Linked DNA regions of Homo sapiens: regions 1, 2, 3, 4 and 6 are each linked to region 5. Evidence: fine-mapped expression QTL. A gene starts in region 5. Each other region holds a variant in brackets. All regions are shown on one strand. Distances are between the middles of the regions.

Region 1 (4,084 bases), 25 kb after region 5:
CTCTGGAGACTTGGACACACGAAGGTCTAGGGGATCAGGCTGTTGAAGGAACCTGTTGGGCTCTTGTCTTTAAAGCTTGAACTCAGCCCTCACTAGCTGCACTCACATCAGAATCATTCTTACTGGGGACCCAGTGTCCCCCAAGTCTAACACCGTCCGTGCGGACCTGCAGGGAACCTCTGTCTCCCCACCCAGCACCGAGTCTAACACCATCTGTGCGGACCTGCAGGGAACCTCTGTCTCCCCACCCAGCACTGAGTCTAACACCGTCCGTGCGGACCTGCAGGGAACCTCTGTCTCCCCACCCAGCACCGAGTCTAACACCGTCCGTGCGGACCTGCAGGGAACCTCCCCACCCAGCACCGAGTCTAACACTGTCTGTGGGGACCTGCAGGGAACCTCTGTCTCCCCACCCAGCACCGAGTCTAACACCGTCCGTGCGGACCTGCAGGGAACCTCCCCACCCAGCACCGAGTCTAACACTGTCTGTGGGGACCTGCAGGGAACCTGTCTCCCCACCCAGCACCGAGTCTAACACCGTCCGTGCGGACCTGCAGGGAACCTCCCCACCCAGCACCGAGTTTAACACCGTCCGTGCGGACCTGCAGGGAACCTCCCCACCCAGCACCCAGTCTAACACCGTCCGTGCGGACCTGCAGGGAACCTCTGTCAACCCACCCAGCACCGAGTCTAACACCGTCCGTGCGGACCTGCAGGGAACCTCCCCACCCAGCACCGAGTCTAACACCGTCCGTGCGGACCTGCTGGGAACCTCCCCACCCAGCACCGAGTCTAACACTGTCCGTGGGGACCTGCAGGGAACCTCTGTCTCCCCACCCAGCACCGAGTCTAACACCGTCCGTGCGGACCTGCAGGGAACCTCTGTCTCCCCACCCAGCACCGAGTCTAACACCGTCCGTGCGGACCTGCAGGGAACCTCTGTCTCCCCACCCAGCACCGAGTCTAACACCGTCCGTGCGGACCTGCAGGGAACCTCTGTCTCCCCACCCAGCACTGAGTCTAACACTGTCTGTGGGGACCTGCAGGGAACCTCTGTCTCCCCACCCAGCACTGAAGGCTGCTGAGAAGTTCTTCGATTTGGAGACCTGATGTCTTGGTCCATTTGTGCTGCTGTAACAAAATACCTCTGACCATGTGATTGATAAACAGTAGAAATGTATTGCACACAGTTGTAGAGGCTGAGAAGTCCAGGATCCAGGCGCCAGCAGACTTGGTGTTTGGTGACAGCCTGTTCCCCAGAGATGGTACCTTCTATGTGTCCTCACGTGGAGGAAGGGACAGAAGGGCTCCTTCAAGTCTCGTTGAAGGGCACTCGTCCGTCATGAGAGGACAGCCCTCACGGCCCAGTCACCTCCTTAAAGCTCCATCTCCTAACCACATCGCCTTGGGGGTTAGGTGTCAACATATGGTTTGGGGGGACACACACATTGAGACCACAGCACCTACTCCAGGCCCCTGGCAACTGGTACTGAGTCCTCTGAATATAGCCAGTATTCGCCAAAACCTTTTGCACAAACAACAATTAAAAATAAAGAAAACTGGCTATCTGCAATGGCTCTCACTTGTAATCCCAGCAGTTTGGGAGGCCAAGAGCTCGAGACCAGTCTGGGCAACAGCAAGACCCCATCTCTACAAAAATAAAATAAAATAAATAAATACAACTGCCCACTCAGTGAACCCAAAGCTGTGGGGCGTTTTGTGTCACTTCCTCTGCTGGTGCCCACGTGACGTCAATCATCTTTCATCAGCACCTCACTTCCCTCTGAACGAAGACCACACGATCTCCACC[C/T]GGCCAGCTCTGAGGCCCCAGGTCCTCCTTCCTGTCTCTCTCCAGGGTACAGTGTCAGTGCCTTCTGTCCGGGCCCTCTGCTGACCTCTCCCCGAGGATCTTCCTACTGCGAGGGCAGTGATCTCAGGCCCCACCACCCTTGGATTTCAGGACCCCACCTCTGCAACCCTGCATTTCTGAAACGCACCTTGGCACTTTGAATGTTCCCAAAAAGGAGATTCTAATCAAATTTGAATTAGGGGGAAGTCAGTGAAAAGCAAATTTCTGGCACCAGGAAATGTACAGGAAGGAAGGTGAGAGGCAAGCCCAGTTCTGGACACCATGTGCTGTGGAGGGGCAGAAGCCATCTGTGACCCCTGACCTCTGGCCCTTACCACCTACCTTATCATGAGCCTACGGCGCATTCTGGCAGCTACAGGGCTACTTTTTACTGAGTCCTTTACAATGAAATGATTCCTAGTACCCCAACCTCTGGAGAACATGAAGTCCCTGGAAGCAAATTCTCAGATAGCTTTTGCTGAACGGTAAATAAGGCTGCATTTTCACTCATGTGACTTAAGCAGTCCACTTGTAAAACAGGCTTTGCAAACAAGGAGGCAATTTAAGGGAAAAAAAACCATCTATGAAGTGATGCTTAACAGAAGTTTGGCTTTGTTGTAACGGTTAATTGACAGAATGATTTGCATTTAATCTTAGTTTTGGACAGCCAAGGATTTGTCCAGGAAGGGCTGCTTACAGCCATGCTCATTAATTGTGAATTACTCATTACTTCAGATCAGCTGGAACAAATCCCAAGCGGGCTTAATCTCTGTGTGCAGGCAGCCCAGGGCTAATGGCAGCAGTCCTTTTTATTGACCCCCACGGCCCTGTCCCCAGTCAACCTCCTCCAAGCAGGGAGTTTCCAGAGGCCTCACAGCCGCCTGGGAGACCCCTCATGGCAGGCTGCTCCCTTGACAAGTTCAGAACTGCTGGGGTTCCCGGCCGCGCGTTCAGGACTCAAATCTGGAGATATCCGCTCTGTGCTCCTCAAGTATAAGGTTAGATAGGGATGGGGCCTGGCCTGTGTTCCTGGCAGGGAAGGCCACCTCTGAGCTCCCCCAGAGCCCGGCCGCCTTCTCCGGGTTCCCAGCCCTGCAGTTCCCAAGGCTGCATGCGGAGGCGGAAATGAGGGCAAAGGTGGAGGGTACCCGGAGCTACTGAGGTCATGTCTTTCCCCAGGCACCCCTTCTCCTGGGGGACCTCACGGTGGGGTCAGGGCCTCACTCCCGGGCACCCCTCCTCCTGGAGGACCTCACGGTGGGGTCAGGGCCTCACTCCCGGGCACCCCTCCTCCTGGGGGACCTCGCGGTGGGGTCAGGGCCTCACTCCCGGGCACCCCTCCTCCTGGGGGACCTCCTGGTGGGGTCAGGGTCTCACTCCTGGGCACCCCTCCTCCTGGGGGACCTCGCGGTGGGGTCAGGGCCTCACTCCCGGGCACCCCTCCTCCTGGGGGACCTCCTGGTGGGGTCAGGGCCTCACTCCTGGGCACCCCTCCTCCTGGGGGACCTCGCGGTGGGGTCAGGGCCTCACTCCCGGGCACCCCTCCTCCTGGGGGACCTCCTGGTGGGGTCAGGGTCTCACTCCTGGGCACCCCTCCTTCTGGGGGACCTCACGGTGGGGTGAGGGCCTCACTCCTGGGCACCCCTCCTCCTGGAGGACCTCCTGGTGGGGTCAGGGCCTCACTCCTGGGCACCCCTCCTCCTGGGGGACCTCGCGGTGGGGTCAGGGCCTCACTCCCGGGTACCCCTCCTCCTAGGGGAGCTAACCCCGGGCACCCCTCCTCCTGGGGGGACATCTCAGTGGGGTCAAGGCCTCAGGCCTGGGCACTTCTCCTGGGGGACCTCGCCCCGGGCACCCTTCCTCCTGGATGACACCCCGGTGGGGTCAGGGCCTCACCCCTCTCCTGGGGCCGTCAAGTGTCCTGCACGCCCTGCTCTCCCTACCGCGTCTGTCTGAAAGGACGCCCTGCAGTCCCCTCGTCCTCCCCGGTCAAGTAGCACAGCCCACAGCCCGGGTGAAATGCAACGACCTTTTACATATCAGCCTTGCTTGAGGCTTTACAGCAACTCCAGGCCGCCTGGCTTGGGTTTGCAGCGCGGCGCCCTCGCACAGCCCCGCCTTCCCCGCGGCGGCGTCTACGGGGGACCAGAGATTGTGACGCGCGCCCTAGGGGAGAGCAGGAGGCTTCCACGGGCCAAGGAGGCGGCTCCGAGAGGTGACCCGGGACCGGGGCGT
Region 2 (4,086 bases), 31 kb after region 5:
TGCCTGTGTGCCCAGCACACTTACCCCAAACACGTGCCCTAAAAACCTGCCCTTAAGCCCCGAACACCTTCCCCGTGCTCCGGCAGAGGCTGGAGCAAAGGCCCTCAGGGTTCAGACCCAGCCAATAGGCCGATGCAGGGAACAACCACAGGGATGTAGGATTAGCAGTCGCCCAAAGGCTCAGCATGTTTTCTGTTTTTTGTTTTTTTGTTTGTTTTTTTTCCAGCCTTTTTTCTTTTTTATTCCAGTCTTACTAAAATTGGTAACAGGTGAATCAAGGTCTATCTTTGATAGAAACATTATATTTTGTAGATCTTGAGAAAAATTATTTCCTTCTTTTCCTCTAAGTAAATCCAAACTAAGGTAAATTTGTAAATAAATTAGGGAACTCGTTTTATTTTTTTTTTAATTTTTATTTTTTGAAATGGAGTTTCACACTCGTTGCCCAGGCTGGAGTACAATGGCGCGAGCTCGGCTCACCGCAACCTCTGCCTCCCGGGTTCAAGCGTTTCTCCTGCCTCAGCCTCCCGAGTAGCTGGGATTACAGGCATGCACCACCACACCAGGGTAATTTTGTATTTTTAGTAGGGACGGGGTTTCTCCATGTTGGTCAGGCTGGTCTTGAACTCCCGACATCAGATGATCTGCCCGCCTCGGCCTCCCAAACTGCTGTGATTACAGGCGTGAGCTACCGCGCCCGGCCAGAACTCGTTTTATTCTTATTAACCTAAGTCCAGGAAGAGACAGAGTGAGGTTTCATTTGTAAAGAACTTGACTAAATTGTGTTTTCAACACAATTTCAACTTTTCTTTTTTGGATATAAATTAAGGGTGAGGACAGACTAATCTCTTAAGTATCGCTCCGTATCACTTAATATTATAATGTATGAAATTAAGACTTAACTCCTGTAATCAGTTGTTTTGTTGGCATTGAATTTCCTGGTTTTACTCCATCCCACTTTATAAATTTTTGTTTTGGGCTTCATGAGAAAAGGACAATGAGAAAAGGACACTAGCTACACTAGCCCGAAACGAAGTGTAGGACAAAGGAATCGAGAGATGGACGTCAGGCCTCCCATTTGCTCAGCTGGGTTCTTTGAACACCTCCTGCCCGATACTTTGTTAAAACATTGTTTTTTGTGGGCTGAGGGGTTACTTAAAGGGGTTACTTTGTTGCAGGTTTTCTAACATGGTTTGCCGAAATGCTTATTCCACCTAGAACATGACCAGCCAGCACCTGTAATCCCAGCTACTCGGGAGGCTGAGGCAGGAGAATGGCGTGAACCCGGGAGGCAGAGCTTGCAGTGAGCCGAGATCGAGCCACTGCACTCCAGCCTGGGTGACAGAGCGAGACTCCATCTCAGAAAAAAAAAAAAAAAACCAACCAGTTATTTTCATGAGTGAGTTGGAAGATACCCAGATACTTGTTTCAACCAAAATGATGTTTCTGATCAGTGATTGGAAAACTCATGATTTACCATTGAGTTGGGAACAATTTGATGCCTTTCAGTTTTTTTGTTTTGTTTTGTTTTGTTTTTTTGAGACAGAGTCTTGCTCTGTCACCCAGGCTGGAGTGCAGTGGTGCAATCTCAGCTCACTGCAAGCTCCGCCTCCCGGGTTCACGCCATTCTCCCGCCTCAGCTTCCCGAGTAGCTGGGACTACAGGAGCCTGCCACCACGCCTGGCTAATTTTTTGTATTTTTAGTAGAGATGGGGTTTCACCATGTTAGCCAGGATGGTCTCAATCTCCTGACCTTGTAATCCACCCACCTCGGCCTCCCAAAGTCCTTTCAGTTTTTTTTTCACTTTCAAAAACATGTAGAAGGCAGTTCAGGGAAAGCTAAGACGTAAAGAATCTTACAAGCATGTTAAGAGCCTGGAGAAAAGGAGTGGACACCTTTTGTTTGTCACGGCATATGTGCGGGTGGTGAAGGGGAGGTAAATTAGAGCCATGGAAAGGGAACTAAGTTTTCACACTTCTGTTAATCCATTTCTTTTGAATTCCAGTCTATTATCCTCCCAGTCCACAACGCTGAACCGTGGCTGGACGAATGTTTGAGGTCTGTTTTGCAACAGGACTTTGAAGGTACCATGGAGCTGTCTGTTTTCAATGATGCCAGTAAGGTTTGTAGGAACTTCCTGTCGGGTGACTCAGCCCCAGTGTAAGCAACGGTTGACTGTTCGGAGGGAAGTTTCCTGACCTGCCAGTGTTCTGCTTTCAGGACAAGTCTGGGGCTATCATTGAAAAATGGAGAGTGAAGCTGGAAGATTCTGGTGTCCACGTGATCATTGGGGGGCACGATTCTCCCTCTCCTAGAGGCGGTAAGTAAACATGCTTAGTTTATTAAACTATAATTCGTGGTTTCTTATCAACTTACGTACCGAAACAGTTTCATGTTGTTCAAATACTGACAAAAAGTATCCTGGTGGTAATTGGATATACCACTTATTAAGAACCTAGTAGAGGCCAGGTGTGGTGGCTCACACCTGTAATCCCAGCACTATGGGAGGCCAAGGCAGGCGGATCC[T/C]TTGAGGTCAAGAGTTCAAGACCAGCGTGGCCAACATGGTGAAACCCCATCTTTACCAAAAAATACAAAAATTAGCCGGGCGTAGTGGCACACGCCTGTAATCCCAACTACTTGGGAGGCTGAAGCATGATAATTGCTTGAACCCGGGAGGCAGAGGTTGCAGTGAACCGAGATCGTGCCACTGCACTCCAGCTGGGGTGACAGAGCAAGACTCCATCTCAAAAAAGAGAAAGAGAGAGAGAAAGAGAGGAAGGAAGGAAGGAAAGAAGGAAGAAAGGAGAGGGAGAGAAAATGAAAGAAAGAGAAAAAGAAAGAAAAGAAAGAACCTTAGTAGACCTAAAATTTTTTATTGTTTGGTAGGATTTATTATAGACCTAAATTTCTTATTCTTTGGTAAGGATTTATTATAGACCTAAATTTCTTATTCTTTGGTAGGATTTATTATAGACCTAAGTTTCTTATTCTTTGGTAGGGATTTATTGTAGACCTAAATTTCTTATTCTTTGGTAGGGATTTATTATAGACCTAAGTTTCTTATTCTTTGGTAGGGATTTATTATAGACCTAAATTTCTTGTTCTTTGATAAGGATTGATTATAGACCTAAGTTTCTTATTCTTTGGTAGGGATTTATTATAGACTTAAATTTCTTGTTCTTTGATAAGGATTGATTATAGACCTAAGTTTCTTATTCTTTGGTAGGGATTTATTATAGACCTAAATTTCTTATTCTTTGGTAGGGATTTATTATAGACCTAAGTTTCTTATTCTTTGGTAGGGATTTATTATAGACCTAAATTTCTTTTTCTTTGATAAGGATTGATTATAGACCTAAGTTTCTTATTCTTTGGTAGGGATTTATTACTATGATCTGAATGTCTGTGCCCACCCCGAGATTCATATTTGGAACCCCCAGGGTGATAGTATTAGGATGACATTAGGTGGGGACTTTGGGAGGTGATTAGGACATGAGGGTGGGGCCTCACCAATGAGATTAGTGCCCTTATAAAAGAGGCCGCTCAGAGCTCCCTCACCCCTCCTGCTCTGTAAGAACACAGGGAGAAGGCACCTCTGTGAGCCAGGAAGGGGCCCTCACTAGACACTGAATCTGCTGGAGCGTTACTCTTGGATTTCCCAGGCTCCAGAACTGTGAGAAGCCCCTTCTGCCACCCAGTCTGGGGTATTCTGCGGTGGCACGCAGGCTCTTCCAACCCTGGCAACCACTCGCCTGCTTTCTGTCTCTGTAGATTTGCCTGTTCTGGACATTTCATGTGAATGGAGTCAGGTTCCACGTGCTCTTTTGTAACCGGCTTCATTTAGCATAACGTTTTAACGTTCCTCTGTGCTGTGGCATGTATCGTGCTCCGTTCCTTTTTCTGGGAGGATGATATGCAGTTGTACATAAGTACCATGTTTTGTGTGTCTGTTTGTCAGGCAGTGGACATTTGAGTTGTTCTACCCTTTGATACTGTGAATGATGACAGTCTGAACATTTGTGTACAGTTGTTGTTTGAACACTGGTTTTCAGATCCTTTGGGTATATTCCTTGGTGTAGAATTTC
Region 3 (4,086 bases), 120 kb before region 5:
TTCTATCTGTCATCTATCTACCTACCCACCTATGTAACCATGCCATCTATTTCATCTATTTTTATCTATCAACCATCTATCATATATCTACCTACCTACCTCTGCCCTTCTTTCTCTCTACAAATTAGAGGCCACATCCCTGGCCGCTGAAGCCTTGTACCCTGACCCACTGTCTGAACCTGATGGAGTCTAAATGCAGTGAGCGGGTGCCAGCCTTCCCTGGAGCTCTGCAGAGGCAAGGAGGGGGTGGATGGAAAGACGGGAGTCCCTCCCCTTAGGTGAGGGGGGGAACTAGGGCCCGGGGAGATGCCCAGGCCTGGCGGCTGGCGTACGTGGGTTCTCTGTGGCCAGCAGGCGGCGCTGCAGGAGGGGAGATGCCCAGGCCTGGCGGCCGGCGCACGCGGGTTCTCTGTGGCCAGCAGGCGGCGCTGCAGGAGAGGAGATGCCCAGGCCTGGCGGCCGGCACACGTGGGTTCTCTGTGGCCAGCAGGCGGCGCTGCAGGAGGGGAGATGCCCAGGCCTGGCGGCCGGCGCACGTGGGTTCTCTGTGGCCAGCAGGCGGCGCTGCAGGAGAGGAGATGCCCAGGCCTGGCGGCCGGCACACGTGGGTTCTCTGTGGCCAGCAGGCGGCGCTGCAGGAGAGGAGATGCCCAGGCCTGGCGGCCGGCGCACGTGGGTTCTCTGTGGCCAGCAGGCGGCGCTGCAGGAGAGGAGATGCCCAGGCCTGGCGGCCGGCACACGCGGGTTCTCTGTGGCCAGCAGGCGGCGCTGCAGGAGCGCTCAGAAGCAGGGGCCTGGGCCTGCTCCGGGGGAATCCGCCCACCCCACCGCGGCGGCCTCTCCTGAGGTTCCCTAGTGGCCGCGAAGGGTGGGCTCAGGGTGAGGGGTCAGGCCACATCAGTGGGTGCAGGGATGGCTGCGGCCACGGGAGGGCGTCCAGGGAGGAGGCCGGAGCTCAGGCCCACTCTGCACACCCAGCCCGCCACCTCCCCCGGCTCTCTCTTCCTTCGTGCACATTCTGGGGCTTGTGCTTCTGCTGTGGTCCCATTTAGCCAACCTGGCCAGCCTCTCATGCCTGCTTCATGGGTGAGACGTGGAGGCCAGGTCAGCCACAGACCCCGGGGCACACGCCGCAGCCAGCACAGCAGGTGGGCGTCTGCGGCCGGGGCCAGCGCAGGGCCCACTGGGCCTCGGAGGGGCCTCCCTGCCGACTCTGCCCCCGTCCTGTGGCCGTAAGTCCACCCAGAGCGCTCGATCTTCCGTCCACCAGGCCAGGGATGCGCGCAGAGTAAGGATGTGTGTGTCTACGCATGTGGGGGTGTGGGTGTGACGGGGTGTGTTCTGTGTGAGAACATGTGTGTAGTGTCCACATGTCCTCTGTGCGTGAGTCCCTGTGTGTGATGTTGTGTTCTGGGTGTGAGTTCATGGGTGTGACGGGGCGTGCTGTGTGAGAACATGTGTGTAGTGTCCACATGTCCTCTGTGCGTGAGTCCCTGTGTGTGATGTTGTGTTCTCGGTGTGAGTTCATGGGTGTGACGGGGCGTGTGCTGTGTGAGAACATGTGTGTAGTGTCCACATGTCCTCTGTGCGTGAGTCCCTGTGTGTGATGTTGTGTTCTCGGTGTGAGTTCATGGGTGTGACGGGGCGTGTGCTGTGTGAGAACATGTGTGTAGTGTCCACATGCCCTCTGTGCGTGAGTCCCTGTGTGTGATGCCTGTGTTCTCGGTGTGAGTTCATGTATGTGTGTGTGAGTTTATGCTCTTGTGTGTCAGCACATGGGTATGATGTGGGTATGTTCTCTCTGTGGGTGAAAACGTGTGTGATGTGGTTCTTTGTGAATCTCTGTGTGTGACGTGGTGTGTTCTCTGTGTGAGTCTGTGTGTCTGGTGAGTGTGTCTGGGTGTGTCTGGGTATGTGCGTGCTGTGTGTCTGTAGTATGTGTTCCTGTGTCTCTCTAAGCTGGTAGCTTCATCTCTTCCATGTTCTCTGACATTCAGAGGAATTTTCTCACAAATGTGTCCACAACATGGCTGTGTGCCATTTCTCCTGCTTTGGGGAGCACCAGTGTCTGCAGAGAGAAACGTCCCTGCTCCTGCCCCTGCATTCACGGCATGACCCTGTTTGCCCAGCTTCCCCCCATACACAGCCCCGGACACACCCTCCTGGGGGAATGTGGTGGGCTCCGCACTGACCGCAGGATCTGCCTCTCACCAGGGATTCATATCCACACGAAAGGGCCAGAGCAACAGCTGGCACATCCCCTTCCTTCCTCCACCGTTCCCACTTATTCTTCAACCAGCCCTAACCAGGCAGGGAGCCCAGGTCCCACGGAAAATCTCTATGAGAAAGTAAGACAGAGGGCAGACCTCCGCCGTGGTCCCTGGAGAACCAGTCGGCGCTGACACCAGGAGCAGGAACTTACTCTTTCCCAGAGGCAGGCAGGGACGGTCATCCTTGCCCAGAGGCCTCGCCTAGAGTGGGGTCCCAGCCCTGCAAGGGACCCCTAGGAAGGG[A/G]AAAGGAGCCACTTGTACATCCTTGCTTCCTACGGAGCCCTCACATGGAGCACATGGCCACTTCGGTCTGGGTCTCTCCGTGCTGCTCACTGTGCTGGTGGGGTGTGCTGCGGAGGTCTCTGGGGAGGTCCCAGGAGCGAGAATGGACCAGGCCCAGGGTAGAGGTGCAAGAGGGTCCTGCCCTTGGCTCCCTCCCCCGGCACAGGCCAGTCAAGGTGGAGAGGAGGCCCCAGCTTGTCCAGCTGGCAGAGGCTAGCCAGGGGGACTGACATGGTGTCACTCTAACCCTCATTTTTCTCAGCCCTTCCATTCCTTATGACTTCTTGCTAGGAGAACCCTGACACCATCCCTGCTGACACTGGAGATATTCCAGAGAGGCCGATCGTCATTGAAAGGGAATGCTCCGTGAACCCTCTGAGCCCTCTTTGACTTCAGAAGCAATAGTATCACAGCTCACAAATTCAGTAGAAAGTCCGAGTTGCATCAGTTTGGAAGTCATGCGGTCAGGCTTCCTGTACCCAGAGGGTGATTCAGCCGCAGAAAGCTCTGGGCTGCACCCCACCCACCCCTGGCCTTCAGGGCCCAGCCACATTGAGGCTGCAGGCGAGCCTGGCCCCCATGCCTGAGAGCCAGATTCCATTCCCTGGCAGCCTCACCTTGGATCGGACAGGGAGGGATCCTAGGACACCAGCCTCGTCTATCCTCCCTGGGACACCCTAGAACCTCACAGCCTGTGGGAAACACCAGGGCATGGAGGGTCAAGCCTACAAAATCCCCCAGTAGGTGATTAGGATAAGGTGAGCACTGGCCCTAGCTGACTCAGGCCAGCCCCCCAAGCAGCCAGACCACGTGAGAAGTGATGGCCACACAATGCTCTGGGTGTCTCAAGGAAAGTCCAAGAGCAGTGGCACTCCGGGCTGCATCCTTGGAGTAAGCACAGAGCAAGACCCCAGCATGCTTTGCAGACCCCGCCTTATGAGCCCTGCACCCCACTGCTCCGGGAGGGGTCAGCACCCCCATGCCAGGGCTGGTTTTCGGGGTGGGTGCCTGGACAATCTGAAGGACCTTTCGGCCACAAGGTGTTGAGAACTCTGCAGAGGATGCTGGGGATTAGCACAACAAGCTCTGCTCCTTCAGGCTGTGCGAGGCCTCATGAAAGCTCCTAAAAATCAGAGGAAGGGCCATGGCAGAGCCTGGGACAAGTGGGCAGCTCACAGAGGGGACTGGGTGCTTGCCATTAGCCCAGACTTCTCCCACTGCTCCTGCCTCAACTGCTACTGCCCGGAGTCTAAGCCCACTTTGTTGACAAGTACCCATTCTATAGAGAGCCTCGCCTAACTCCAGGTAGAGGCAGAAAAGTGTGTGTAGATCAAATGGCCCAGCTGGCAGCAGAGCCAAAAGTCATGCTTACTTGCTGGCCAGCCTTGCACAAGGCACCAAGGGTCACCTCTGCAGGCTTCAGATCCTGCCCTCTGTGAACAGTCAAAAAGAAGGTGTCAGAAGGAGCTAGAGGATGCAAGGGTGGCCAAGGGGCACAGAGGAGGGTCAGGTTACACTGGGAGGGAAGAGAGGC
Region 4 (4,079 bases), 21 kb before region 5:
CCTGGAGTACACACCTGGCCCCAAGGGGCTGTTCCGTGGCAAGGAGCACGCCCTGGGAGGCGCCAGCCGTTGGGAAATCAGACAGAGTCTGCTCCACCGGGAAAGCCACACGGAGCTCAGCTGGACTCAGGCTCGGGGGAGGAAGCTCAGGCGCCTGATCGCTGGGGCAAAGCAGCTGGAGGCCGGAGAGAAGGGCAGGCCCTGACAGCAGGCAAGGGTGGCCTGCACCCACCAGGCTGGTCTCCTCACCGGACTGAGGGCCTCTCTTCCCCAGGCACCCACCAGGCTGGTCTCACAGGACTGAGGCCCTCTCTTCCCCAGGCACCCACCAGGCTGGTCTCACCAGACTGAGGCCCTCTCTTCCCCAGGTCCCTGGCCGGCCTCCATGTCCTGGTCCCGGGCCGGCCTCCATGTCCTCCACCACTCAGCCTCAGTGGATCACTGGACAGACTGCAGGGAGTCTTTGCCAGCCTTGGGGTTTTTCCTCCCCAGGTTCCAGTTCTCCCACAAATGCCCTCTGCTCACCTCTGAGAAGTACAGGAAGAGCCGTGCTCAGAGGTCCCACTGGAGACCCCTCCAAGGCACGGCAGGTGCCAGCAACAGCAATGCCAGGGCACCCTGCCCAGAAGCAGAGCCAAGTGAGCAAGGCTGGGGGCTCTGGAGGTCCAGACAAGACCCTCTGGGGGCAGGAAAGTCAAGTGTCCTGGTCGAGGTCACACAGTGGCTGGGACCAAGGACCCCTCTCCACGACCCTGGGAAGCACAGCTGCCCGTGCAGAAGTCCAGACCCTGGTGGAGCTCGGCTCGGCCCCACGGCACGGGAGAGGCAGAAGCTCCAGCAGTGAGTTCTCCCTGAGCTGCAGCTGCAGCGAGGCATCCCCGGCACAGCCCCACGGCTCCAGGTGGAACCGGGAGGAGGAGGAGCCTGGGGACCACTCAAGAGTAGCCGGGCGGGGAGCACAGCCCCTGCAGCGTCTCCTGGGCAGAAGCAGGTGTGGTCAGGACGAAGGAAGCACCTGGTCTGTGGCCCAGACAGTGTCTCCTTCTATCCACATCCGGAGCGACACTGAGGTGGGCTGAACAGAGGCTCCGGTGGACAGAGACCCGTAGGCACCGCCCAGCCTGCCCCTGCTCAAGCTGCCCGGGTCGCTTCTTACAGAGCCCCACTGTGCTGCACTCACATCATCTCACAGGTCCTGCCACCCTTGTCCACCTGCCCACAGACCCGCCACCCCCCTCACGGTCCTGCCAACCTTGTCCCCCCTCCCACAGACCCGCCACCCCCCTCACGGTCCTGCCACCCTTGTCCCCCTCCCACAGACCCACCACCCCCCTCACGGTCCTGCCAACCTTGTCCCCCCGCCCACAGACCCGCCACCCCCCTCACGGTCCTGCCAACCTTGTCCCCCTCCCACAGACCCACCACCCCCCTCACGGTCCTGCCAACCTTGTCCCCCCGCCCACAGACCCGCCACACCCCCTGTCCGGCCCAGGGAAGTGCAGTGCCTATGGGTGGGACTGGCAGACCCGCCGGCCGACACCCAACCTGGCAGCCGCTGTGGCCAGAGACCAGTTATCTACCATCAAGAATGTGCCCTTGACTATTTTTATGTCATGTGTGTTTTCTTTCTTGCCTCAGTTTTTAGTAAAGTTCCTTGTTGGGCATTTTAGTCCAGCTCAGCAGTGCTAAAAGGGGAAAGAAAGGGGCGTTGGGCTGTTTCTGGGCGGAGAGTGCCGGGCAGAGTGGCTCCCGGCCCCTCACCCTTCCCTGGGCCCTCCACCCCTCCCGCAGCGCCCCTCCCCCTCACCGGAGCCCCCCGGGTGTATTTTTGTTTCTTTGTTTTTTAGCATATTTTTCATCTTGCCTCTGATCAAACTGATGGCTAGAAAAGTATGTGGCTTGGTAAGCAAAATTCTTCTGAAGAAATTCCAGAGCCCCCGGCCGCCGTGACCTCACCGCCCCGACACCAGCCAAGCCTCCGCTGTCTTTATAAATCACGGCCCGCCCGGCTGGCAGCACACAGTGGCCCAGTGTTGACTCCGGATTCCTCACGTTCCCTGGCGTCCCCCGTGGGGCCCCTGCCCCGGCGGTCGGGGAAGCAGAGCGGGCAGGCTGGGGGTCCCTGGGCGGCCATCCCCTCCCTGCTGGGTGAGCCGGCGTCCTCCCTGCAGGTCTGCGTCCCCACGTCCCGCCCCTG[C/G]CTTCCGCCCCTCAGAACCCCTGCCATAGCCGCACTGCCACGACCTCCTGCTGTTAGTGGCCGCCCCCACCTCCGGAGCCCGACCCACTCTGCTCCGAGGCTGCTGGGATGGGCACCCACCTGTAACCAAGTGTGAATAGCAGAGCCGGTGCTGGCTGCAGGCCAGACACCAGCAGGGCTGATCAGGCCCCAGGCCGCTCCTCAGGTGGGGGCAGGACCCAGTGTGCACCGGCTGAACCGGTGCCCACTGCAGGCTGGCACAGGGGCTGCACTGGGAACCAAGGCTCTGCCCTTCTCCCAGGACTCAGTCTCTGTGGGAGACCAAGACCCACAGCCCAGGCTGATGTCCTAGAGGGAAGACCTGGGGGTAGGGGGCACTGGGGAGGGGAGGCATGGGGCCTGGTGGGGGAAGGAATGGCAGGAGGGGAGGGGGTGTTGGGGGAATCCCACAGGAGAGGAAGGAAGAGGCTGAGGTCACAGGCACAACAAATCCCAGGAGAGCAGGGCCCAGGAGCACCCGGTGCCGCCTCAGAAGGCTCTCGGGCCTCTGCTCACAGCCCCGTGCCCCTCCTGGTATTGAGTGACCCACCTGCCGTCCTTCACAAGGGCGGGTTTAATCCCAGCAGGCAGGTTCCCAGGAACATGCCCGTGCACAGTAGGCCTCCCTCCATGCTCGCCCAGTGAGTGGTCAGGGAGGAGAGGACCCCGGGGTCTCACCAGCTCCTCTCAGGACCCTCACCATTTTGACCGCACAAAGGAGCAAAGAAGGGTTCCCGAGGGCAGCCAGGGCCGGGACCCCACCAACCGGCCTGACTGATGAACTCCGGGGGCCGCTGCCTGCACAGAAGGGGAGCGGACAGCCCGGCCGGGGCCAATTCCCACCACGCCGGCCTGGTTTCTAAACAGTTTAATCAATTAGCGAGGTGGAAGCCCTCAGTGTCAGCTGCAGTGCTAATGAGGGGCCCCACCCCCACCCGTGGGACCTGCAGCCGGACTCTGGCCCCTCAGCAGGGCCTCCCAGTGCGGTGGGGTGGGGACAAGGAGGGGGGCTGGGAACCCAGCTGTGCAGCCCCCGCCACAGGCTCAGCCACACGGTGTCCAGTGCCCGGCCCTCCCTGCAGCCAGCTTTCCTTCTGGAACCGCAGGGAACCTCTGACAAAGCCCTCCCAGCAGAGGAAGCTCAACTCACAGGATAGCCAGGAAGGGGGGGCTCCTCATGTGGAGGGAGTCGAGGTCGAGGGAGGATGAGGGGTGAGCCAGGACTGTCCCTGCCACCCCAGCGTCCCAGCTGACCCCTCTCTCTCACACACACAGAGACACATGTGAACACGGACCACATTCCTGCCCAACCTGAGATGGCTTGACATGCCGGGGCCTCGGCCAGCCCTGTGACGAGCTGGAAACCGAGTCACAGCTCCCATGGGGCCCAGCGTTTGCAGATGGGGGACCAGCATGGAGCTGTGGGCTCTGGTTGCTCTCAGCTTCTCTCTCATGGCCATCAGCCGACTGGACCCCAGGGTGAAAGGTGTAGGCGTCTGGGCATCCAACAAGCAGGAGGCCCCCCGCCACCCCACATAGGCTGCCCCCTCGACCCGCAGAGTTCTTGGAAAACCTCCAGGGCTTCCCGGAGGGAAAAGGGCAGGTGGAGGGGGCAAGTGGGGGCCGGAAAAGTAGGGGCAATCCTCACGCTGGGAGCAAGGAGGAGCCTTGCCAACTCCCCTCCCCTTATGGGGGGACTGACAGATACGGGGCTCCTGGGAGAAGCCACCGCCCCCGAGAGCTCCAAAGCCTCTGACTTGTCTTGGGTAAGTCTCACTGCTCTTGCAGCACCTGGGGGACGATGGGGGCCGCCCTGGAGGGGAAGCAGTTGCTGTCCGGTGCA
Region 5 (4,075 bases):
ACCCTGAAAAGGGCGCCGGCCCCTTCTCGACACACTCGGCCTGGGTGGCGGGGGCGGCGTTTCTGGCTTCGGTCTGCTGGAGCGGAACGCCCCGGGCCTCGGTTCGGGGATGCACCGACCCGCCGGGCAGAGGCAGCGAGCCGGGGCTGAATCACTCCGCGGGGGCAGGGGCGGCCCCAGAAGAGCCGTCGGCCTCGGAGGCTCCCGGCGCCGGCGTTCCCGGCCGACCCCCCCCAGACCTCCATCCGCCCGCGGCCCCGCTCGGCCGAGAAGGGAGGCGGCCGCTCCCGGGACAGCCGGGCACCGCCCACGGCCCTCGGGGCGACTCTGCCCCCCAGCGCCACGCCCCTTCCCCCGGGGAGGCTCCGCCGGGGGCGCTGGGGGGCGACTGTGGCTTCGCGGGGACCCGGAACGGAGGCTGCGGCTGCGGGGAGACCTGCGCCCGCCCCGCGGACACCACCCGCCCCGCACCGGCTCTGCCCCGACCTTCTCGGAAAACAGCTTCGCTCGACATCACCGCGTGACTCGGCCCGCGGCGGGGGCGGGGGCGGGGGCGGGGGCCGCGCCGAGGGGAAGCGGGACCCAGGCCCGGGCCAGCCCGGCCACGGCTCTCCGGGAGGCGCGCGTCACTCGGGTCCCCGCGCATCTGCGAACCCCGGAACTGGCGACTGCGAGGCTCGCGCAGGGCGGGTTCGGCCGCGGTGCCCTCGGCGCCCTGGGCTTCGCGTGGGAGCGGCGGCGGCTCCCGAGGGGCAGTCGCGGTCGGCGCCGCTCTCGGCGGCCACGCTTGAGTCAAAAAAAAAAAAAAAAAAAAAAAGTCCTCGGCCGCCACCGCGGGTGGGGGGGGGGGGGGTCGCCCAGCGCAGCGCGCGCCGCGGCCAAGGGCGGCCTGACCTTCACGGGGCAGGGGCGGGGGGCCCGGCCGGAGCCACACTCGGCCCGGCTCACAGGTGCCCGCCCGCGGCTCCCCGAGACGGAAGTGGCCCCCGCTGCGGTCCGCGCCCGATCCCCGAAACCGCCGCTCCCTCCCGCGGCCGTCCCTTCCCGCTCTGGCCCGGGGCGGCCTCGGGGCGCGCAACTCCCGGAGCCTGCCAGGAAGGGCCCGAGGACCGACCCCCGCCTGCCCCCGGGATGGGGTCGCGGGACCGGCGGCCCCCGAGGCTCGGACACGCGCGGAGCCGGGACCCACCCGGCCGCGCTGCAGGCGCGCCTCCCCCGGGCGTCCTCCGGGCCGGGAACCGGGACGCCGCGGGCTCTTTTGTTCTAGAACCGGGGGCGGGGGACAGCGGGCACCGGACTGGGCCTGGAGAGCGGCCCCCGGAGCCCCTGCCCCGCGCCCGCCCCCGGCCGCGCCCCCGCACGCTCGGCCGGCCCGGGACGGGAGGGGACGCGAGGGGAGGGGGCCGGGCCGGGGTCGCGCCGCGCACACTCACCTCCCCTTCCAGCTGCACCGGTCGCTGGAGTACTGCGCGCCCGCGCCGCCCAGCAGCCCGGCCAGGAGCAGGAGCAGCAGCGGGAGCGGCGGCGGGGGCGGGCCCGGGGCGGGGGGTCGCGGCCACGGCTGCCCCGCGCGCCCCCAGGCCGCCCGCGCCGCGCCCCGCATGCTCTGGCGCCGGCTCCGCCGCCCGGCCCCGCGTCCGCGACCCCCGGAGCAGACCCCGGAGCCGGCGAGCCGGGCGGGGGCGGGGCGGGCTTCGAGTCCGGGTGGTCACGTCGCGCGCCCCCCGCGTCCTCCGCGCGGCCGCCCGCCCATCCCGGCCCGCTGGAGCCGCGCGCAGAGCTCCGCGCCCGCCGCCGCCGCCGAGCCTCTGAAGTTGGCGAGTCCGAGTCCGCCCGGCCGGGCTCAGCTGGGGGGTGGGGCCCACCCGCCGCCCCGCCCCGCCCCCGACCCCGCCCCCGACCCCGCCCCGCGCCGGAAACTCCTCCCGGGGCGCCCGGCCGGACGCGCAGACACCGAGTCAGCAGCGAATCGGGGGCGCGGGCGCCGGGGCGGGGGGCGCTGCAGGAGGAGGGGGCCGCGCCGGGCGGCGAGCGGGGTCCGGAGGGAAGAGCCCGGCCTGGAAAGCGGAGTCCGGGGCCGGAGGGGTTGCAAGGCGAGGGCGGGGCGGAAACCCGAGACCCCCAAGTAGTGGCCGACGCGAGCCGCGGTCGCCCCCCGCAGACCCCCGCGAGGCGGTGCCGGGGCCGCATCCTGCGCCCCATCCTGCGCCCCATCCTGCGGGCAGCCCCGGCGCGGAGCGGTAAAGGAGGCTCCCGGCCCCGCCGGTTCTGGGTCCCCCGCGCCTCGCCAGCGGGCGGTGATCAGGGGCGATCCGGGCGCCCCGCGTTCCGCAGAGTTGGTGCCTCGGGAGTTCCCGGCTCCCTCCTGACCGGGGGGGAGGCCCGGCGGTGAGCCCGGCTTCCCTCCCTCCTCCCGGAGGACGTGCAGCCGCCGCGCCGGGGCCTCTGCCGAGCGCTGCCCACTCCTCGCTCCGGATACGCGGGGCCGGGTGGTTCTTGGGGTGGGGACGTCCTGCGCATGGTGGGATGTTGGCAGCACCCTGGCCCCCGCACTCTGGGTATCAGTAGCAACCCCCGCCCCAGCTTTGACAACCTAAACTCTCTGCAGATTTGGCCAAATCCCGCCCCCACCCCGTGCCCGCGGGGCAGAATCACCTGCGGAGCGTCCTGCTCGAGTGTGTTCCTCGGAGTCGGCGCCTTCCCCAGGTGGTCACCGCGGCCACCACGTGCCTGACCCAGTGGGGGGGACAGCGGAGACCCCCGCCCGGACTGGGGAGGCCCTAGAGACTCAGGCCAGAGAAGGGGAGCCAGAGGGTGCCGAGGGCCCCCCAGGCAGGAGAGGGCGGAGCTGGCCCGCCCGGCGGTCCCCGCTGCGATGGCAAAGCTGGCTTCTGTGTGCTGCGGGTCAGTGGCCCTGCCCGAGACGCCTGGTGTCAGTTCCAGAGCCGAGCGCAGCATCCAGCGGTGGGGAAGCTTGGCCTTGTCCCCTTTTCCAGCCAAGATACCTTCCAGGAGGACTTGCGAACGACCTGTGCAAGTCTGAATAACTGGGTTGTGACTACCAGAGGAGGCGGGGAGAGGGCTTTGAAAATTGTGAGTCTGCAGGGACGGAAGTCACCGGCAAAGGCAGGTGGAGCCCAGCCCCCAGCCCAGGAAAGCTGGGACAAGGGTGAGGGTCTGAAGAACTGGAAGGCGATGACAGTGACCACTGAAGGTAGTTTCATTGTAAGGATCTGTTCAGAGCACCCACCCCATCGAAAGCCTGGAGCCAGGACCTTGCCCAGCACATCAAGTGACATCACCCTGAGGCTCAAGGTCTGGTGGAGGTGCATTTCGGAGCTTGGAGACTGCCCCACCCACCCCCGTCTGCTCTAGGAGTGCACCTCCCCCCACCCCCATCACTGCAGGTACCAGGGTGCCCAGTGGAAAGGGACCTGCTGTGGAAAGGGACCTGCTGTGGAAAGGGACCTGCGGCTTCACACCTGTGCGCAGCAACTGCTTTCCATGCCCACCAAGCATAAGATAGCAGCCCCCCCAGGCCCGGTCCACCCTTGAAGGGCCACATGGCCTATCAGGGTCCAGATCATCACACCACGGAAGAGGCAGGGCAGTGCTGGGATCTCTTGAGTTATAGATGCGGACATGGGGAACTCAGGACCTGCCGTGACCTGCTCAGGGTCTCAGAGCCCCTGGTGGCTGCTAGACCGAAGGGGAGAGGCCGCCTCTGGTCAGCAGGCAGCTGGTTCCAGCCTAGGCTGGGGCAGAGATCTGCCACCTGGCAGGATGCCCAGCCTCCTGTGCCCAGCGGGCTGTCCTAAGACTGGGATCGTACGATGGTGAGTATGGGACCCACGTGTACTTTTCAAAACCCGTAGAAAATACAGCACAAGAGTGAATCCTGATGGAGGCTTGAGACATTTGTAATAATAACGGATCAATATTGGTTCTTTGACTGTCACACGCCTACACCCTAATGAGAGAAGGTAATCATAAGAGAAACTGGGTCAGGGAGAGGGTGTGTGGGGGACCTCTACCATCTGCTTGGTGTTTCTGTAAACCTAAAACATTAAGTCTG
Region 6 (4,083 bases), 37 kb after region 5:
TTGAGTCAATTTTGGTAGTTTGTTTCTAGGAATTTGTCCATTTCATCTAGGTTATCTAACTTTTTTGGCATATGTTGTTTTTCACACTGTCATAATCCTTTTAGTTTCTGTTAAGTTTGGGAGTCATGTACCACTTTTTATTTCAGCATTTTGAGCTGTCTTTCCTTCTTTCTCAGTCTAGCTGGGTTTGTCAATTTTGTTGACCCTCTTCAAAGAATCAACTCTTTTTGTTGATTTGCTATTGTTTTGTCATTGTTTGTTTATTTTCACTCTAATCTTCACTGTTTCCTTCCTTCTGCTAGCTGTGTGTTTAGTTTATTTTTCTTTTTCTAGCTTCTTAAGGTGTACTTTTAGGTTCTTGATTTTAGACCTCTTTTATGTAGGCATTTATAGCTATAAATTCCTTTCTATGCACTGATTTTTCTACATCCTGAAAGTTTTGGTTTGTTGTGTTTTTGTTTTCGTTTGTCTCTGAGTATATTCTAATTAGCCTTATGATTTCTTCTTTGACATATTGGTTGCTGAAGAGTATATGGTTTAGCTTTCATTTATTTATGAATTTTTCAGTTTTACTTCTGTTACTTATTTCTAGTTTCATTTCACTGTGGTCAGAGAAGATACTTCATATAATTGCAATCTTTAAACAAATGTTTAAGGTACATTTTATGGCCGGACGTGTCACCTGTCCTGGAGAATGCGCTGTGCACACCTGAGAATGTGTGTTCTGCTGCTGTCAAGTGGAGTATTCTGTATATTTCTGCTAAGTCTAGTTGGTTTATAGTATTGTTCAAGTTCTCTGTTTATTATCTTCTCTCTAGATGTTCTCTCCATTATTGAAGGTAGAATGTTGAATCTCCGACTGTTACGGTAGAACTGTTTCTCCCTCCAATTCAGTCAATCTTTGCCTTACTTAATTTTGTGACCCTCTTGTTAGATGTGTACAGTTTTATGCTTGTTATATCTTCTTGATCAATTGACTCTTTCTTTGTCTTTTCTAATAATTTTTGAGTTGAAGTCTATTTTTTCTGATATTAGTACAGCCACGCCAGCACTCTTTGATTACTAGTTGCGTGGAATATCTCTTTCCCTTGTTCCACTTTCAGCCTACTTGTGCCTTTGGATCTGAAGTGAATTCCTCATATAGACAGCATTTAGATGGATCATAATTTTCAAGATCCGTTCTGCCAGATTTTGCCTTTTAATTGGAGAATTTAGTCCATTTACATTTAAAGTGATTACTGACAAGGAAGGACTTTTGCCACTTTGCTATCTGCTTTCTATATGTCTTATGTCTTTTTTATTCCTCAATCCTGTATTACTACCTTCTTTTCTGTTTAATTGCTTATTTCCGATGTGCCATTTTGATTCCCTTCTCGTTTCCTTTTCTGTGTATTTCTAAATGATCGTCTTAGTGGTTACTGTGAGGATTACGGTGAACATCTTAAATTTATAACAATGTAGTTTGAATTAACACTTAGCTTCAATCATGTAACATTAACATAAATTCATAAATTATTTTCATGAATGTAGATTTAGATTTATAATTGTTTCCTGGTGTGTGTGTGGCAGTAGGGGGCAGGGGCTCACTCCATCACCCAGGCTGGAGCGCAGTGGCGTGATCTTGGTTCACTGCAACCTCCACCCAGTAGGTTCAAGTGATTCTTGTGCCTCAGCCTCCCAGGTAGCTGGGAATACAGGTGCCTGCCAGCACGCCTGCGTAAGTTTTGTATTTTTGGTAGAGAGGGGGTTTTGTCCTGTTGCCCAGGCTGGTCTCGAATTCCTGGACTCAAGTGATCCACCCACCTTGGCCTCCCAAAGTGTGGGGATTATAGGCATGAGCCACAGCACCTGGCTTGTTTTCTGTATTTGTTTTAAAAGCATATAGGAAAAATACAAACCAAAATAGTACTATCTTTTATATTTACCTGAATAGTAAACTTTATCCCTGTTCTTCATTTGTTCTTTCTCTATGAGTTCCTGTTTAGTGCCCTTTCATTTCAGCCCTACAATGAACTGCCTCAGTTTTTGTTTATCTTAGAAT[C/G]TCTTACTTGCTTCTTCATTTTTGAAAGATGACTTTGCTGGATATAGGATTCATAATTGACAGTGTTTTTCTTTGAGCACTATGAATACAGATGGCCCCCAGCCTGTGATAGTTCAACTTACCATGTTTCAACTTTATGATGGTCAAAGGCAACACAAATTCAGTAGAAACCATGGTTCTGTCAGGATACCAGGCAGTGGCCATGAGTCACAGCTCCCAGGCCCCCAAGCATTTTTGACTTATGATGTTTTAAACTTACAGCAGGTTTACCTAGACATAGGCTCACCCTCAGTTGAGGAGCATCTGTGTGTGACCCCATTGCCTGTGGCCTTCATTGTTTCTGATGAGAAGTAAGCGGTTAATCTTACTGAGGGTCTCTTGTAAGTGACAAGTGATTTTCTCTTGTCGCTTTCAATATTTTGTCCTTATCTTTGGTTTCAGCATTTTTACTATGATGTGTTTAGCTGCGAATCTTCTGTGTTTATCCTACATGGAGTTTGTTGAGCTTCCTGGATGTGTAGATGAATGTTTTTCAATAATATGAGAATTTTTCAGCCATTATTTTTTCAAACTTTTTTTCTGCTTATTTCTCTTGCCTTTCCGTGTGGTACTTGCATTGTGCATATGTTGGTATAGTTATTGGTATTCCAGCTTTCTCTGAGATGCTTTTCACTTTCTTCATTCTTCTTTGTCTCCATTTTCAGATTCAGACTTACCCATCTATCTCTGTGTTTGCTAATTTTTCTTCTGCATATTTAAATATACTCTTGAGCTCCTCCAGTAAAATTTTAGTAATTTGAGAATTTTTCAGCCATTTTTTTTTTTTTTTTTTGAGATGGAGTCTCGCTCTGTCACCCAGCCTGGAGTGCAGTGGCATGATCTTGGCTCACTGCAAGCTCTGCCTCCCAAGTTCACGCCATTCTCCTGCCTCAGCCTCCCAAGTAGCTGGGACTACAGGCACCCTCCACCACACCCAGCTAATTTTTTGTATTTTTTAGTAGAGATGGGGTTTCACCGTGTTGGCCAGGATGTTCTCGATCTCCTGACCTTGTGATCCGCCTGCCTCGGCCTCCCAAAGTGCTGGGATTACAGGCATGAGCCACTGTGCCCAGCCTCAGCCATTATTTTTTCAAACTTTTTTTCTGCTTATTTCTCTTGCTCAAGAATATTTTTATGCTCAGTTGACAGATTGGCTGGGTATAGAATTCTAGGTGCAAAATAATTTTTCTTAGAATTTTAAAGGGATTGCCTCATTATATTCTAGTGTCCATGTTTCTAATAAGAAATCTTACACCAGTCTGACTCTTGTTATTTTAAAGGTATTGTTTCTCAAAGTATTTAAGATTTTTCTTTTTGTACTTTTGAATTTTGAAATTTCATGATGCTGGGTCAAGCTGTGTTCAGGTTTCTTCATTCACCCTCTGTTTTTATGTTGAATGATTAGCTTGTGTTCTTAGCTTTGATTGTAATAGATCAGGGTCCTTTTAGTTTGACTTTAAAGTTTCCATATAAGACTTGAAAAAAATATGCCTGCCTATATTGCATGGGGCTGAAAAAGTCAAGGTTGGCAGATGATACGTTTTTAGTTGGTGGACGGGTTCCTACAGATTTTAGGAGTCACAGCTTCTCTAAGATAATGGTCGTCAACTTTGTGCACGTTAGAATCATCAGTGAGTTTTAGAAAACCAGTGCCTGAGTCTCACCCTAAGATATTCTCATGTAATTGGTCTGGGGTGCAGCGTGGGCATTGGGATTTTAAAAGCTTTCCAGAAGATTCTGAGACACATCCAGGATCAGGAGCCACTGCTTTAGAATGTGCTCAGGAATGGGTGGCATCACCCCACTTTCTAGTGGACTTGGTCCTGAGGGAGTCTTACAGCTATGACGTATTTCAAGGGCAAGCGGCTGAGGGTTTACGGTCCCTCTGGAATGTCCCCATGTGAGAGCCTGGGGAGTTAAGTCCTCTGTTGGGTCCTGTTCAGATCTGTGAGACTCACAAAATCACAGGCTCACCTGCGGGGTGTCTCAGTGGACAGGAGCAG

What was found. PIP is the estimated chance that this variant, and not a neighbour inherited with it, causes the effect.
Region 1: its variant is fine-mapped to the expression of METRNL in whole blood (TOPMed, PIP above 0.99).
Region 2: its variant is fine-mapped to the expression of METRNL in whole blood (INTERVAL, PIP 0.96).
Region 3: its variant is fine-mapped to the expression of METRNL in whole blood (TOPMed, PIP 0.92).
Region 4: its variant is fine-mapped to the expression of METRNL in whole blood (TOPMed, PIP above 0.99).
Region 6: its variant is fine-mapped to the expression of METRNL in whole blood (TOPMed, PIP 0.98).

Annotation. Positions count from the first base shown.
Region 1 is chr17:83,051,983-83,056,066 of GRCh38, reverse strand. All of the region lies in intron 1 of LOC124904094, which reads right to left. Among named protein-coding and RNA genes, the nearest start is that of QTGAL, 2.3 kb to the right of the region's middle. The variant C/T (reference allele first, on the strand shown) is at 1,811.
Region 2 is chr17:83,046,706-83,050,791 of GRCh38, reverse strand. QTGAL (queuosine-tRNA galactosyltransferase) reads left to right here. Exons shown (of 13, transcript NM_001009905.3): 2 at 2,007-2,123; 3 at 2,222-2,321. Among named protein-coding and RNA genes, the nearest start is that of QTGAL, 3.0 kb to the left of the region's middle. The variant T/C (reference allele first, on the strand shown) is at 2,528.
Region 3 is chr17:83,202,198-83,206,283 of GRCh38, reverse strand. All of the region lies in intron 2 of LOC101929650 (a long non-coding RNA gene), which reads right to left. Among named protein-coding and RNA genes, the nearest start is that of METRNL, 120 kb to the right of the region's middle. RefSeq lists a silencer at 676-835. The variant A/G (reference allele first, on the strand shown) is at 2,514.
Region 4 is chr17:83,097,996-83,102,074 of GRCh38, reverse strand. No RefSeq gene overlaps it. Among named protein-coding and RNA genes, the nearest start is that of METRNL, 20 kb to the right of the region's middle. RefSeq lists an enhancer at 2,656-3,652. The variant C/G (reference allele first, on the strand shown) is at 2,198.
Region 5 is chr17:83,077,344-83,081,418 of GRCh38, reverse strand. It overlaps METRNL (meteorin like, glial cell differentiation regulator), which reads right to left and starts at 1,810. Exons shown (of 4, transcript NM_001004431.3): 1 at 1,434-1,810. The coding sequence starts at 1,603.
Region 6 is chr17:83,039,856-83,043,938 of GRCh38, reverse strand. The region is part of intron 3 of QTGAL (queuosine-tRNA galactosyltransferase); the gene reads left to right. Among named protein-coding and RNA genes, the nearest start is that of QTGAL, 9.9 kb to the left of the region's middle. The variant C/G (reference allele first, on the strand shown) is at 2,042.